2 separate regions of the Homo sapiens genome follow, and region 2 is linked to region 1. The links come from fine-mapping of genetic effects on gene expression. Tissue or cell type: whole blood. Region 1 holds a variant in brackets; the other region holds the start of a gene. All regions are shown on one strand. Distances are from middle to middle.

The links. PIP is the estimated chance that this variant, and not a neighbour inherited with it, causes the effect.
Region 2: it holds the start of STXBP2, and the variant in region 1 is fine-mapped to the expression of STXBP2 in whole blood (TOPMed, PIP 0.91).

Annotation. Positions count from the first base shown.
Region 1 is chr19:7,559,287-7,567,441 of GRCh38, forward strand. It overlaps PNPLA6 (patatin like domain 6, lysophospholipase), which reads left to right. Exons shown (of 32, transcript NM_001166114.2): 29 at 1,362-1,478; 30 at 1,728-1,824; 31 at 1,922-2,031; 32 at 2,202-2,478. The coding sequence ends at 2,276. Among named protein-coding and RNA genes, the nearest start is that of PNPLA6, 28 kb to the left of the region's middle. The variant G/T (reference allele first, on the strand shown) is at 3,793.
Region 2 is chr19:7,633,648-7,641,647 of GRCh38, forward strand. It overlaps STXBP2 (syntaxin binding protein 2), which reads left to right and starts at 3,463. Exons shown (of 19, transcript NM_006949.4): 1 at 3,463-3,539; 2 at 5,079-5,128; 3 at 5,372-5,453; 4 at 6,084-6,160; 5 at 7,084-7,162; 6 at 7,253-7,356. The coding sequence starts at 3,503. It overlaps PCP2 (Purkinje cell protein 2), which reads right to left and starts at 72. Exons shown (of 4, transcript NM_174895.3): 1 at 1-72. RefSeq lists enhancers at 3,009-3,536, 3,537-4,065, 4,066-4,592 and a silencer at 3,281-3,570.

The DNA.
Region 1 (8,155 bases):
CAGTGATCAATTGGTGATGTCTGCAGGGGATGTAGTAGGGGTGTGGCTGTGCATGTGCTGTGTAAGAACTTTCTCCTTATAGGCCAGCTGCACCCCTGGAAGCACTGTATAGTGATTTCTACTGCCATTTCTGCATTGGTGGGAATGAGAATAGTGATGAAGCAGAAATGTCTGCCACAGTTCCAGGAGAGGGAGGTAGCAGTGCGTGTGTTATGTGCTACTGACCCTGAAAAATGTGCCATAGCCCAAGCCAATTGAAATTGATCAGGGGGCCAGGCATGGTGGCTCATGCTTGTAATCCCAGCACCTTGGGAAGCTGAGGTGGGAGGATTGCTTGAAACCAGGAGTTCAAGACCAGCCTGTGCAACATAGCAAAACCCCATCTCTACAAAGATTAAAAATAAAAAATTAGCTGGGTGTGGTTGTGCATGCCTGTCACCCCAGCTACTTAGGGGGCTGAGGTGGGAGGACCGCTCGAGCCCAGGAGTTTGAAGCTGCAGTGAGCTATGATTGCGTCACTGCACTCCAGCCTGGGTGACAGAGCAAAACTCTGTCTCTAAGAAAAAGAAAGGGCCAGGCATGGTGGCTCATGCATTTAATCCCAGCATTTTGGGAGGCCGAGGTGGGCAGATCACTTGAAGTCAGGAGTTCAAGACCAGCCTGGTCAACATGGTGAAACCTCATCTCTACTAAATATACAAAAATTAGCTGGGTGTGGTGGCACATGCCTATAGTCCCAGCTACTTGAGAGGCTGCAGCAGGAGAAATCGCTTGAACCTAGGAGGCAGTGGTTGCAGTGAGCCAAGATTGTGCCACTGCACTCCAGCCTGGGTGACAGAGTGAGACTCTGTCTCAAAAAATAATATTAATTTTAAAAATTAAAGATAAAAATAATAAAAATTTTTTTAAAAAGAAAGAAATTGATCAGTAGCTGCAGCCCAGAAGCCCTGAGTCTGAGAAGAGATGTGTGATGTCCCTTGTGGGCTCACTGGGATAGCATGCCATGAGAAATTCAAGATGTTTGCTGTGGGCTTGGGGATGGCGACATCCACAGATGTACTGCCTGTTTGCAGACTTCAAAATAAGCTCACACATCACCACCTTGTGTTATTTGCTACCCAGCACCCTGCATGGGGCTGTGTGGGAAAGAACATGGAGAGATTGATTGGTAATGTCTGTCAAGGGCAGGACAGGGGATGTGTAGGCGAGTGTGCTATGTGCAGCTGACTCTGAAATAGGTTTAGTCTCAAATGCAACTCCCCCAGAGAATCAGGCTTTTGAGGGGCCAGAGAATGGGCAGACAGAGTGGGGACAAGCAAAGCAGGGTTGCAGACATGGACCCAGCCCCTCATTTCCCACAGGATGTGGGCTACCAGTACGGGAAGGCGGTGTTTGGAGGCTGGAGCCGTGGCAACGTCATTGAGAAAATGCTCACAGACCGGCGGTCTACAGACCTTAATGAGAGCCGCCGTGCAGACGTAAGCCTGTGATGCCCCCAGGGCCACTCTGACTCCACTGATTACAGAACCCAAGCCCCCTTAAAGTCTCCCCGAAACCTCAGATGACCCCACATGTCCCTGGGTTTTGCTGAGCTCTCAGACCTCTGCTGACTTCAGAGAGTTCCCACCCTAGGATCTCCTCTGAGCCCCCAATGCACCACTGGGCCCCCCAGGGGCCCCAAGACTCTGTGGGCCCCCCCTAAGAGCCTCACCAGTGTCACCCCACAGGTGCTTGCCTTCCCAAGCTCTGGCTTCACTGACTTGGCAGAGATTGTGTCCCGGATTGAGCCCCCCACGAGCTATGTCTCTGATGGCTGTGCTGACGGTGAGGGGCCCAGGGGACCCCCCAAGAGGGAGGGGAGTGGCTGGAGATGGCAGGCCAGCCCCAATCCCCTCACCTGTGCCCTGCTCCCCGATTCCAGGAGAGGAGTCAGATTGTCTGACAGAGTATGAGGAGGACGCCGGACCCGACTGCTCGAGGGATGAAGGGGGGTCCCCCGAGGGCGCAAGCCCCAGCACTGCCTCCGAGATGGTGAGAGTGGGTGGCCCAGGGTCCCCTCACATCCCCCAGAGGGTCATGAGTACAGTGTCAGGCAGGGGAGCCGGGGGCGTATTTGAGATCCTGTGTGTGCTGGGTGCTGGCTGACATGTGACGCATCAGTGTCCCGTGCTGGGTGACGTGTGTGTGACCTTCCCTCGCAGGAGGAGGAGAAGTCGATTCTCCGGCAACGACGCTGTCTGCCCCAGGAGCCGCCCGGCTCAGCCACAGATGCCTGAGGACCTCGACAGGGGTCACCCCCTCCCTCCCACCCCTGGACTGGGCTGGGGGTGGCCCCGTGGGGGTAGCTCACTCCCCCTCCTGCTGCTATGCCTGTGACCCCCGCGGCCCACACACTGGACTGACCTGCCCTGAGCGGGGATGCAGTGTTGCACTGATGACTTGACCAGCCCCTCCCCCAATAAACTCGCCTCTTGGAAATGGCTTCCTGTCGTTTTCGGACTGGGGACCCACCTTCTGTGCTCAGGATGGCTGGGGCTGGGGTCTGACACCACCTGGTGCTTGCCCCCCACAGGGAATGCCTTTCTAGAATCCACACGGAGCCCCACTAGGTGCTTGTCCCCACTCTGCCCCTTCTCTGGCTCCTCAGAAGCCAGTGCTGACTCCGGACCACAGGGCCAGACATTCCGTGCCACCCTCCCGGGCTCACAGGTGCTCTTGGGGGCCCGATATGGCACCCCTCAATTTCTTTCTGTGTGTTTTTTGTTTTTTGTGTTTTTTTTTTTGAGATGGAGTCTCACTCTGTCACCCAGGCTGGAGGCTGGAGTGCAGTGGCATGATCTCTGCTCACTGCGACCTCCATCTCCCGGGTTCAAGCGATTCTCCTGCCTCAGCCTCCTGAGTAGCTGGGATTACAGGCGCCCGCCACCACACCCAGCTAAATTTTGTGGGGGGGTTTTTTGGTTTTGTTTTGTTTTTTGTTTTAATTTTTGAGACAGTGTCTCTCTCTGTCACCTAGGCTGGAGTGCAGTGATGCGATCTCAGCTTATTGCAGCCTCCAGCTCTTGGATTCAAGTGATTCTCATGCCTCAGCCTTCCAAGTAGCTGGGGCCACAGGCGAGCACCACCATGCCTGGCTAATTTTTGTATTTTTTGTAGAGAAGGGGTTTCACCATGTTGGCCAGTCTGGTCTCAAACTCCTGGCCTCAAGCCATCCACCTGCCTCAGCCTTCCAAAGTGCTGGGAATACAGGCATGTGCCACCACACCTGGCCTTAATTTTTGTATTTTTAGTAGAGACGGCATTTCATCACGTTGCCCAGGCTGGTCTCAAACTCCTGACCTGAAGTGATCTGCCCGCCTTGGCCTCCCAAAGTGTTGGGATTACAGGCATGAGCCTCCTTGACCGGCCAGAACGGTTTATCTTTTTTATGAGTGAATAATATCCCATTGTGTAGATGGACCACATGGTATTTATTGGTTCATCTGTTGGACGCTTGAGTTGCTTCCACCTTTTGGCTATGGGGAGTCATGCTGCTGTGAACACAGGTGTACAACTATCTGGATCCCTGCTTTCAACTTCCTTGGCTAGATGCCCGGGAGTGGAATTGTTGGGTTACATGGAGATTCTGTGTTGAATTGAAGAAACGCCAAACTTTTCCATAGCGGCTGCACCATTTTAAATTCCCACCGACTGTCAGTGCCTCGAGCTGTCAGCACCATGGACAGGGATGGTGCTGTCCGAGGTGCTACTGACGCCCCCTCTGTGTCTTTCCCTCCAAGCCCCCCCACCCCC[G/T]CCGATATCCCTGCGCCCTCCAGATCTCTGAGTTTTGAGGGTGGAGGGGGACATTTAGGGGAAAGTTCAGTCCATAGTTTGGCACCTACTGGTGTCTGTATCTTAACTGGCTCCCCTTCCATCCTGGCTCACAAGGCTCCAGTTGTACCAGCCTTCATTCTATTCCTCAAATTCTCCATCGATTCCTGGCTCAAAGCACAGAATTGGGCTTTTTACTCCCTGTGTAGCTGATTAAGCCTGTCCTCAATTGTCACCTCTTCGGACTGTGTACAGTAACTTCCCTGTTCCCGTTGGCCCCTGTCTCCTTGCCTTTAAAGCACTTCATTAGTCACAGTTGCTTCACTTGTTTTTATTGTTTTCATTGTTTATTATTACTATTATTATTATTATTATTATTATTATTATTATTATTATTATTATTATTATTTTGAGACAAGATCCCACTCTGTCACCCAGGCTGGAGTGCGGTGATGTGATCACGGCTTACTGCAGCTTTGACCTCCTGAGCTCAAGTGATCCTCCCACCTCAACCTCCCGAGTAACTGGGACTACAGGCGCGAGTCACCACATGCAGCTAGTTTTTTTTTTTTTTTTTTTGTAGATATGGGGGTCTCACCATATTGTCCAGGCTGGTCTCAAACTTCTGGGCTCAAGCGATCTACCTGTCTTGGCCTCCCAAAGTGATGGGATTACAGGTATAAAGTGTTGTTGGTGTTGTTGTTTTGTTTGTTTGTTTGTTTGTTTTTGAGACAGAGTTTCACTCTGTTGCCCAGGCTGGAGTGCAGTGGTGTCATCTCGGCTCACTGCAACCTCTGCCTCCCGGGTTCAAGCTATTCTCCTGCCTCAGCCTCCCAAGTAGCTGAGATTACAGGCAACCGCCACCACACCTGGCTAATTTTTGTATTTTTAATAGAGACGGGGTTTCACCATGTTGGCCAGGCTGGTCTCTAACTCCTGACCTCAGGTAATCTGCCTGCCTCAGCCTCCCAAAGTGCTGGGATTACAGGTGTGAGCCACCACACCCGGCCTAAAGTTTTTAATTAACTTTTTTTTTTTTAGAGACAGGATCTCACTCTGTTGCCTAGGCTGGAGTGCAGTAGTGAAGTCATAGCTCACTGCAGCTTCAACCTCCCAGGCTCAAGTGATGCTCCCACCTCAGCCTGCCAAGTAGCTGGGACTACAGGCAAGCACCACCACACCTGGATAATTTTTAAAAAAAAATTTTGGTAGAGACAAGGGTCTCGCTAGGTTGTCCAGGCTGTTCTCAAATTCCAGGGTTCAATTGATCCTTCTGCCTTGGCCATCCAAAGTGCTGGGATTACAGGCACGAGCCATCACATCAGGCCTCACTTGCTTACTTGTTTCTCATCTGTCTCTGCAAGACACACTTAAATATAAGTTCCATCACTGGAAGAACCTTGCATAGAACAGCACCTGGCTCATGGTAGGTGCTCAGTAAATGTCGAATGACATCAAGCTCCAAAGACGAAGCAAAGATCCCTGAGATAACTCCCACTCTCTCTCTTTCTCTCTGATTTTGTTTTGTTTTATTTTGAGATAGGGTCTGGCTCTGTTGCCCACCCTGGAGTGCAGTGGCGCCATCTCAGCTCACTGCAACCACGCCCAGGCTTAAACCATCCTCCCACCTCATCCTCCCTGGTAGTTGGGACCACAGGCACATGCCACCACACCTGGCTTAATTTTTGTATTTTTGATGGAGACAAGGTTTTGCCATATTGCCCAGGCTGGTCTTGAACCTGGGCTCAAGCAATCCAACTGCCTCAGCCTCCCAGAGTGCTGGGATTACAGGCGTGAGCCACCTCACCCAGCCGACAATACGTTTTTGTTGCTGAAGTCACCCCATCTGTGGAACTTTGTGACAGTGAATCCTAGCAAATTAACATAGAAGCCCTTGGCTAGACTCAGCTGCCATGATGTGGATGGTGTAATGGATCAGGCAGGACAAGTCAGGTTATGCCGCTGTAACAAATAACACCAAAGTCTTGGGGGGCAAAAACAATACAAAAGTAATTTCTGAGCTGGGTGCAGTGGCTCATGCCTATAGTCCCAGCTACTTGGGAGGCTGAGGCAGGAGGATTGCTTGAGCCCAGGAGTTTGAGACCAGCCTGGGAAACATAGCAAGACCTCATCTCTAAAAAACTTTTTAAAATCAGCTGAGCATAGTGGCATGCACCTGTAGTCTCGGCTATTTGCGAGGTCGAAGCAGGAGAATCGCTTGAGCCCAAGAATTCGAGGCTGCAGTGAGCTATGATTTCACCACTGCACTCCAGCCTGGGCGACAGAGTGAGACTGTCTCTAAAACAAAAGTAGTCACTATCTGGAATGTTTTGGGTCACTGTGACTGAGGAAAGACATCTCTGGAAGGCCTCATACCCATCATTAAATACTCTGGTCCAGAAATGATGCAATACTTTTATCTCACTGCTCATTGGCTAGAAAAAGTCACATGGTCCTACCCAACTGTAAGTGGCCAGGAAAAAACAGCCCTACCATGTGCCCAGAAGAGAGAGCATTGGAAATATTTGGTGATCATCACTAATGATCAACAGGCTGGGCTGCAGTAGCTCACGCCTGTAATCCAAGCACTTTGAGAGGCCGAGGCGAGTGGATTGCTTGAGCTCAGTAGTTCGACATCAGCCTGGGCAACATGGCAAAACCCCATCTCTATCAGAAATACAAAAAATTAGCCAGGCATGGTGGTGTGAGCCCGAAATCCCAGATCCTAGGGAGGCTGAGGTAGGAGGATCACTTGAGCCAAGGGAGGTCTAGGCTGCAGTGAGCCATGATCATGCCACTGCACTCCAGCCTGGGCAATAGGGCGAGACCCTGTCTCAAAAAATTAAAATAAAAACAAACAAAAAACAAACTATTGACTAACAGAGTTGGAACTGAGCCTCAACTGGACCTTCCTGGACTCTCTAGGCTACCCCTCTCTGGTTCCAGAGCTTGAGACTCAGCTAGCGCCAAGAAATTTTGAGGTTACAGTGAGGACCTGGGTTCAGGGTCAGGGGCCCTGTCCTGCAATCCACAGGAGCTGGCCACGAGGTGTGGACCCAAGAGACTGATAAAGTCACATTCTCAAGAGTGTTTTCTTGGTCTCTCTCTCTCTGTCTCTCTCTGTCTCTCTCTGTCTGTCTCTCTGTCTCTCTCTCCCCCTCTCCCTCTCCCTCTCCTCTTTTTCTTTCTTTCTTTGACAGAGTCTCTATCTGTCACCCAGGCTGGAGTGCAGTTGTGTGATCTCGCCTTAGCGCAACCTCCACCTCCTGGGCTCAAGTGATTCTCCCACCTCAGCTTCCTGAATAGCTGAGATTATAGGTGCATGCCACCATGCCCAGCTAATTTTCTTTTTAATTCTTAGTAGAGATGGGGTTTTGCCATGTTGGCCAAGCTGATCTTGAACTCCTGACCTCAAGAAATCTGCCTGCCTTGGCCTCCCAAAATGCTGGGATTACAGGCATGAGCCACCGCACCCAGCCTCTTGGTGTGTTTGTTGCCCAGTGTCTGGAAATGGCCATGTAGAGGTTGGACAGGGAAGAACCAACCTGGTCAGGCTGTAGGACATCTTTTGGCCACCCAGGCCAAGTGCAGTGGCTCATACTTGTAATCCCAACACTTTGGGAGGCCAAAGCAGGAGGATCGCTTGAGGCCAGGGGTTCAAGACCAGCCTGGGTGACATAGTGAGACTCTGACTCTATGAAAAATATTAAAAGTAGCTGAGTGTGAGGGTGGGCTTCTGTAGTCCCAGCTACTTGGGAAGCTGAAGTTAGAAGATCGCTTGAGCCCAGGAGTTAGAGGCTGCAGTGAGCTATAATTGCACCACTGCACTCCAGCCTGGGCAACAGAGTAAAACCTTTTATAAAAATAATATTAATAATAAGTTTAGGCCAGGCACAGTGGCTCATGCCTGTAATCTCAGTACTTTGGGAGGCCAAGGCAGGTAGGTCACTTGATGCCAGGAGTTGGAGACCAGCCTGGCCAACATGGTGAAACCCCTTCTCTACTAAAAATACAAAATAGCTGGATGTGGTGGTGCGTGCCTGTAATCCCAGCTTCTTGCGAGGCTGAGGCACGAGAATTGCTTGAACCTGGGAGGCAGAGATTACAATGAGCCGAGATCATGCCACTACGCTCCAGCCTGGGTGACAGAATAAGCCTCTATCTCAAAAAATAAATAAACAAATTAAAAAAAATAAGAGGCTGGGCATGGCGGCTCACACCTGTAATCCCAGCACTTTGGGAGGCTAAGGCAGGAGGATTGCTTGAGCCCAGGAGTTTGAGGCTGCAGTGATCTATTATCACACCACTACACTCCAGCCTGGGTGACAGAGCAAGACCCTATCTC
Region 2 (8,000 bases), 74 kb after region 1:
CTGGATCTGGCATGGTGGGTAGGGGGCAGGGCGACCTGAGCTTGGACCTCGCTGTGCCCAGCAGCAATGACTGGACCCCAGGGACTCTCAGGTGTGATGTCACAAAAGGCCTGAGCAGCATCCCCACAGTTGGAGAAGGGAGGCCAACAGTGTAGGGTGGTAGCTGGCTTAGGGAGGACTTGCAGGTGTCCCCACCCAGCCACCCAGGTTCCCCCACTGGCTCCTGAAAGGGCAGCTGCCACCTGCAGTCGGTACAGAAAAAGGAGGTTGGAGTCAAAGGCCCCTTCCCTCCCTCCCTCTCTGCACCTGCCTCAGACACCACCGGCCACCCTAGCTCCAGCTCTGTCTCCTTGGCAGCAAGTCAAGGGGTCTCCCAGCCACCCTTCCTTCAACTCACTGTCCCTGGAGCCTGGTTGCCTGCCCCAGACCCCAAAACAAGAAAGTCTGGGGTCTCCTGTTCCCACACCACCTAAATGCCAGGTTGAGCTATCTCCTCTCCTCTATCACCCTAGCCCCAGGTGGGAACAGGAGGCGAGACTCCCTGGGGACAGAGGCAGGCGGGGAGAGGACGTCCCTGCCTTTTCCCCCGAGCCACTGTGGCTTTCCCTCAGTGCCCAAGCAGGGGATACCACTGGGAGGTCCCCATCCCCTTCCCTTCCCTCCCCAAGACGCCTTTACGGAAACCAGTGGAAGTTTCATCTCAGAATGAATGGGCTGCACTATCACCACCTCTGCCCGAGCCTCCTCTGTTCCACAAAAGGCCAAGTTCACACTCTCTCCCTCTATGCCAATGAAGTGTCCCCCTCCTCAGTACGTGTATCCCTTTCCTAGGCCTGCCAGAACAAAGTGTCATAGACCAGATGGCTTAAAACACATAAGTTGACTTTTGTTATATATTTTTATATAGAGATGAGGTCTCACTATTTTGCCCAGGCTAGTCTCAAACTCCTGGGTTCATGTGATCCTCCTGCCTGGGCCTCCCAAAGTGCTGGGATTACAGGCATGAGCCACCATGCTGAGCCTTTAAAATTTTTTTTTAACAAATTTATTGAGCCAACGTTCCAGAGGCCACAGCCTGAAATGAAGGTGTTGGCAGAGCTGTGCTCCCTCTGAAAACCAGGTCTCAGGAGCCCTCCTTGCCCCTCCCTGGCTTTTGGCAGTGGCCTGCCGTCCTTGATGTCCTTGGCTTGTCACTGCAGCTCTTCACTCCCTGCCTCCGTGGTCACATGGCATTCTCCCTCTGTGTCCCAGTCTTCATATACCCATTTCCCCACCCCCCCAACCACCTACACAGAACCAGGCAGACATATAACTATCTTACAAGGACACCAGTGATATTGCATTAGGGGCCTACTCTACTCCAGTGTGACCTCATGCTCACTGCTAATATCTATACTAACCCCATTTCAAATAAGATCCTATTGTGGGGTATTGGGGATTAGTACTTCATATCTTTTGGGGGTTAGTGGTGGGGTGGCTGGCCCTAACAGCTCTCTGTCCCCCCAAGGGGTCAGGCTGAGAAGCTGGAGGCGGTCCTGGCTTCCATCCCCCCAGGATCTGGAGGGTTCCCCGCCTTCCCCTGCTCAAAACTCTTGAGAAGACAAAACCCAAACACCTAGGGGTTGTGGAAATGTTCTAAAATGGATTGTGGTAATGGACACACAACTCCAAAAATACTGAAAGCCATTGACTTACGCACCTTAGGTCAGCGAGTTGTATGGTATGTGAATTATATCTCAGTAAAGCTGTTACAAAAGGAGGAAGGGGCAGGGTGCGGTGGCTCATACCTAAAATCCTAACACTTTGGGAGGCCAAGGCAGGAGGATCCCTTGAGCCCAGGAGTTTGATACCAGCCTGGGCAACATAGGGAGATCCTGTCTCTTAACAACAACAACAAAATCAACCGGGCACGGTGGCGTGCACCTGTAGTCCCAGCTACTTGGGTGGCCGAAGTGGAAGAATCCCTTGAGCTCAGGAAGTCGAGGCTGCAGTGAGCTATGATCGTGCCACTGCCCTCCAGCCTGAGCAACAGAGCGAGACCCGTCTCTTTACAAAACAAAAACAAACAAAAATGGGGAGGAGGGAGAAGAAGGAAGAAAGGAAGGGAAAAGGAAAGGAAAGGAAGAAATAGCTCAAACTCCTACCTACGGTTGCCAACCGTCCTGGTTTGCCTGTGACTGTCCTATTTTTAGCACTGAAAGTCCTGCATCCTGGCACTGGGATGGGTCAGTCTGACCTTGTCCTACAGAAGTCTGGCCCCTGCTGCCCCCACCCTCCAGCCTTCTTAAGCTCGGGGCTCCTCCCTTCTCTACCTGGACATGCTGTGTGGCTGCTTCTAGAATCCATTTAGGGATAATGTCAAAAGGCTGCTTCTTCAGAGAGGCCCTCGGGGGTCATCCTCAGTAAAGTCCCCTCCCACCCCTACCTTCTGTGGCACTTGTTGTCACATTAGTTTATTTCCTTTAGGGCAGCATGGATCCTTTCCTATCTCCCCCAGACCTTCGGGTCTGATTCACTCCCTATGTCCCATGTAAGTGGCAGGGGGCTTGGTACCTTCATCAACACGGCCGAGCGAAGGAACCAGCTCAGACCAGCAAGAGTCTGTTTGCACACATACCTCGCACCTTAAATCGGAGACCTCATTTTGTATGGGTGCTGCTGGGGCTGTGCCTTCCAAGCGACAGGACACACAGCAGAAGCAGCTTCTGAAATTCCGAGTGTGTGTCTGTGTTTGCAAGCATTTGAGGGCGTCACTCACCCCATGTGTGTATCAGCATGTTAATTCGATTGTTGGTCCACGAGGGTAAGCGTTGCGCCTCCCGGAAGAGGGTAAGGCTGTGACAAATGCCCCCTGGGGACAGGCTCCTGGCTTGAACCCAGCAGGCTCACTCGTCGTGGCCTTGGATTAGGGATCCCGCTAAGCCTCGGTTTCCTCGTCGGCACCGCAGTCCAGGTCGGAACATTGGGCAGGACTGAATGAAAATTATGTCCAGGTGCCTGCACACAAGAGGTCTCCAGGCCTCCTGAATCCATCAAAAGTTATCCAAGACGGCTGCTGCTGCTGCTGCTGCCTCTAAACCCTGAAGTACAGAAGGCAAGTGGGTCAAGATCCCAGGCCCAGACAGTGGCGGCCCGGTGGCATCGAGTGGGTGCCGTGTATCTTGCAGGCACAGAACCTCCCGGGGAAGATGGAGGGATTATTGCCCTGCGATCCTGCTTCGCACGCAAGCCAGGAAGTGTGTGTCTGAACTCCCATCTGTGAGCGTGTCGTCGAGGTGTGCACCTCCAGCGACTTCGTGCTCGGCAGCGCGGACGCACCTGCCCGTCCTCCCCGCCAGGGACTCAACTTCCTGGGCCTGGGCGAGAACCGACGGCGGGGAGGGGCCAGGTGCGCAGGGGGCGGGGACAGGGCCCGCGGGGCGGGGTCCACGTGGGTGACGCGCGGGGCCACGCCCCCACCTTGGGACACACCCGGAAGCGGCGGCGGCGCCCCTCGGGGAAGATGGCGCCCTCGGGGCTGAAGGCGGTGGTGGGGGAAAGTGAGTGCCTCTCCGGGGCCGGGCTCTGGCGTCCGGTGTGGGACGGGGGTCGGGGACGCACGGGCTCTGGGATCCTGGGTTTCATGGCGGCTGGGAGTTGGGGGCCGGGCTGGGCGTCCGAGCACCTGACCCTCGAGGGGGCGGGCGGGGACGGGTTCCCAGCTGGACGCCCCTGCTCTCCGGTGCCAGAACAGAACAAAATTGGGGGGCCGGACTCCGGGGACCCAAAGGGGACGGGTAGAGTGTGGCGGAGGCTGGGGCCCGGACTCCTGGGCCTCCTAGGGTGCCTGCCGGGGGAGGAGGGCACAGCTGGATGCCCACACTCTAGGATCTCTTAAGCCGGGCAAAGTTCAGGGGCTGGATTCTTGGGGCCTCCTAGGGCTCTGGTCAGCGACCCTAGGTGCTGTGAGCGCTCAGGGGACGTGTCCAGGCCCCACAGGGGTGGTGTAGGGGATGTCTTCCTCCTTGCCCCATTTCCAGGAGCGCCTTGCAGCTGGAGGACGCAGGCGTCCAGGCCTCACCGGCCCCGGTTCTTGGGGGAAGGGTGGAGGGCGCCTCTTCCTCCACCCCGGGGAGTTCCGGCCTCAGCTGCTCCTTCCGCCCTGGCCGTCTTGATAACAGTGGACATGACACAGTGGACGTGGCTGGGCGGGGCCACCCCGTTACTTCTCTCCACTCTCTCCTCTAGGCAGGGCGGTCTGTAGCTCAAACCCCTTTAATTGGGGGAGATTAGAAAAAAGTGATTCCATTTTACAGATGAGGAAACTGAGACCGGAGGTCAGTGGGATAGCCTCAGCTAGGCATGCCTCAGAGCTGGGAACCAGGGGTCCTACATTTTAGACCAGGTTGGGGGGACTGGCTGAAACCCTCACAGCAGGAATACTTGAGGTAGCAGGTGGGGAAGCCGAGAGCCTGGCGCTAGAGGCAGATAGAGCTGTAGATGATCCCGGTTCTCCTCTTTTCATTCACCTAAAACATGTTTATCGAGTGGCACCTTTTGCCCCAGCACTCTGCCACTTAGACACTCAGGATGCGTAGGTGAGTTACATGTTGCCTAAGAATCTGTTTCCCTGTCTGTAAATTGGGGGTGACCCCAGAAGCCAATTTGCAGAACTGGGGGCTAAAAATAAATGATTCCTGTGCCGTGTCTCACACCTGTAATCCCAGCACTTTGGGAGGCCGAGGCAGGAGGACTGCTTGAGGCCAAAAGTTTGAGACCAGCTTGGGCAACATAGCGAGACCCCATCTATACAGAAATAAAAATAAATTAGCTGTGGGTGGTACATGCACCTGTAGTCCCAGCTACTCGGGAGGCTGAGGCAAGAGGATCGCTGGAGCCCAGGAGTTGGAGGCCGCAGTGAGTTATGATCACACCACTGCACTTTAGCCTAGGTGACAGAGTGAGATCCTCCTCTCTTAAAAAAAAAAAAAAAGTAAATGGGAATTAAGATGGGGGTTCAGCCCCAAGGCTGAGAAGGCTTGGGGCAGTGGTGGGACCAGAGAACCAGCATTCTGACCCCTCCCCTCCCTTCCCTGCAGAAATTCTGAGCGGAGTTATTCGGAGTGTCAAGAAGGATGGGGAGTGGAAGGTAGGGGTGAGGCAGATGGCTGGGTACCCAGAGGCAGCTCATCATCAGGCCTATGGGGAAGACCCTGAATGTGGGACCCCCAAGAACTGCCTGTCCACATGGGTGGAGTTGGGTGAATGGGTTCTGGGTCCTCCCACCCAGCCAGCCCTTGAAACTGCCCCTCCCACTGCCTTGGCCCCTTCTGGGGCCAGCTGTGGCCTCTTCCGCCTGCTCCTCCATCCATCTGTCCATCCATCTGGACAGGTGCTTATCATGGATCACCCAAGCATGCGCATCTTGTCTTCCTGCTGCAAAATGTCAGATATCCTGGCTGAGGGCATCACCAGTGAGTGAACGCGTCCCCAGTGAGATGGGACCTGAGCGTGGGAACCCCTGACTGTGCCCCTCTCCCAGGGTTCAGCCCTTGAGTGTAGGATCCCCTCAAATCGTCCAGAACTCCCAAGTACGCAGCTCCCTGCACGGACAGCCCGGATCATGTGACCAAATCCATTCTTAAACCTTGCAAGCTGACTGCGGGAGCCCATGGATTGCAGGCCTCCCCTGCAGCACTCCCTGGCTGCAGCCCCTTCCTGACCGTGCAGCTCCCTCGTGGAGCCCTGTGTGGGACTCCCAGGGTGGACTCTGGATGTGGGGTCCCAAGAATGCAGAGCCTTCTATGGGTGACCCCAGGTGGTGTCCCAGTCACTTTGCCATTGAGGGATAGGTGCTGAGGGAGCCTGTCCTCTCAGAACCTCAGTCTCCCTGTCTGTAAATTTGGGGAACCCAGTTGGCTGCACAACCCCTGCAGAACCCTGTCGTGTGGCTCTTAGCTGGTGGTCCCTAAGTGGGTTTCTCCTGCAGTCCCTCCTAAGCATCCACCCCTCCTCCCCAAGCCTCCAACCCCCCACACCTGAGACTCCCCACGTGGCCCTGCCTGGATGCCACCCACCTGTGTCCCTTCCTCTGTTCCTACTAGTTGTTGAAGACATCAACAAACGGCGGGAACCCATTCCCAGTCTGGAGGCCATTTATTTGCTGAGCCCCACGGAGAAGGTGCCTACATGAGTGAGCGTGTGTGTATGCGCGTGCATGCGTGTACATGTGCATGTGTGTGTATGTCTGCATGCATGTGATTGCATGTGTGCATGTGTATACGTGTGCATGTGTCCATGTGTATGTGTGTGCATGTGTGTGCATGTGTGTGTGCATCTGTGTATGCATGTGTGTGCGTGTTTGCATGTGTGTCTATGTATGTGTCTGTGTGCATGTGCATGTGTGTGCGTCTGTGTGTGCATTTGTGTGTATGTGTGTATGCGTGTGTGTCTGTGGGTCTGTGTGTGCATTTGTGTCTGTGCATGTGTGTATGCGTGTGTATGTATGTGTGTGTGCATCTGTGTGCATCTGTATGTGTGTGTGTGCGTCTGTCTGTGTGCATGTGTGTATGCGTGTGTATGTATGTGTCTGCGTCTGTGTGTGCGTCTGTGTGTATCTGTGTGTGCATGTGTGTATGCGTGTATATGTATGTGCATCTGTGTGCATGTGTCTATGTATGTGTGTGCATCTGTGTGTGCGTGTGTATGCGTGTGTGTATGCGTCTGTGCATGTGTGTATGCGTGTGTGTGCGCATCAGTGTCTGCATGTGTGTATATGTGTGTATGTATGTGTGCGCGCGCATCTGTGTGTGTGCATGTGTGTATGTATGTGTGTGCATCTCTGTGTGTGCATGTGTGTATGTGTGTGTGCATCTGTGTGTGTGTGCATGTGTGCATGCGTGTGTATGTGTGTGTGCGTGCGTGCATCTGTGTGTGTGCGCGTGTGCCCATGTGGGTGCGACACTAGTGTGCATTTGCACATATACATGTCCCCGTCCGTCCATGTTTGCACATGGTGGCAGATGGGGGGTGGCTGGGAGGCCTAGGCAGCCAATGAGCCTAGGTGTGCAGGCTCAGGCCCAGAGAGTGATCCACCTTCCCCAGTCGGTTCAGGCCCTGATCAAAGACTTCCAGGGGACCCCGACTTTCACCTACAAAGCGGCCCATATCTTCTTCACCGACAGTGAGTGAGGAGAGCCTAGGGTGTTGGTGGGTGGGGCAAGGAGGTGTGGGGGCTGCTCTGGCCTGATGCCCCACTCCTGCCTCACCCCAGCCTGCCCCGAGCCCCTGTTCAGTGAGCTAGGCCGCTCTCGTCTGGCAAAGGTGGTGAAGACGTTGAAGGAGATTCACCTTGCCTTCCTCCCCTACGAGGCCCAGGTACGGCCCGGGCTCATCCTGGGCAGGGGGTGGGGGTTTGTGACCAAATGTCCCCTGTTCCCTCAGAAACAGACACTGAGGCTGGGCGCAGTGGCTCATACCTGTAATCCCAGCGCTGTGGGAGGCCAGGGCAGGAGGATCACTTGGGGCCAGGAGTTTGAGACCAGCCTGGGTACAGAGCAAGACCCCGTCTCTTAAAAAAAGAAAAAGAAAGAAATTAGCTTGGCGTGGTGGCGTGCACCTGTAGTCCTAGCTACTCATGGGGCTGGGGTGGGAGAGTCGCTTGAGCCCGGGAGGTCGAGGCTGCAGTGAGCTATGATTGCACTGCTGCCCTCCAGCCTGGGCGACAGAGCGAGATCCTGTCTCAAAAACATACATAAAGTAAAATTTTAAAAAGGGGAGGTACCCACAGAGTCCAAGGAGCTCTTGCCTTGAGTTCTATCCCACTAGGCCCTTGCAGGGGGCAGCGTAGAGCGCACCGCGGGGTTGTCCAGCCAGCTTAAGGGACACGGGCTGGGGTATTTATCCACTGACTCCTGCAGGCATGGGTTTAGGGTTGACCTGGGCCTGCCTCCAATTCGGCAAAGCAGGCTTCAGGGACCAGGGACGGCTCCCAGGAGGTGCAGGTGGCGGCAGCGGGAAGC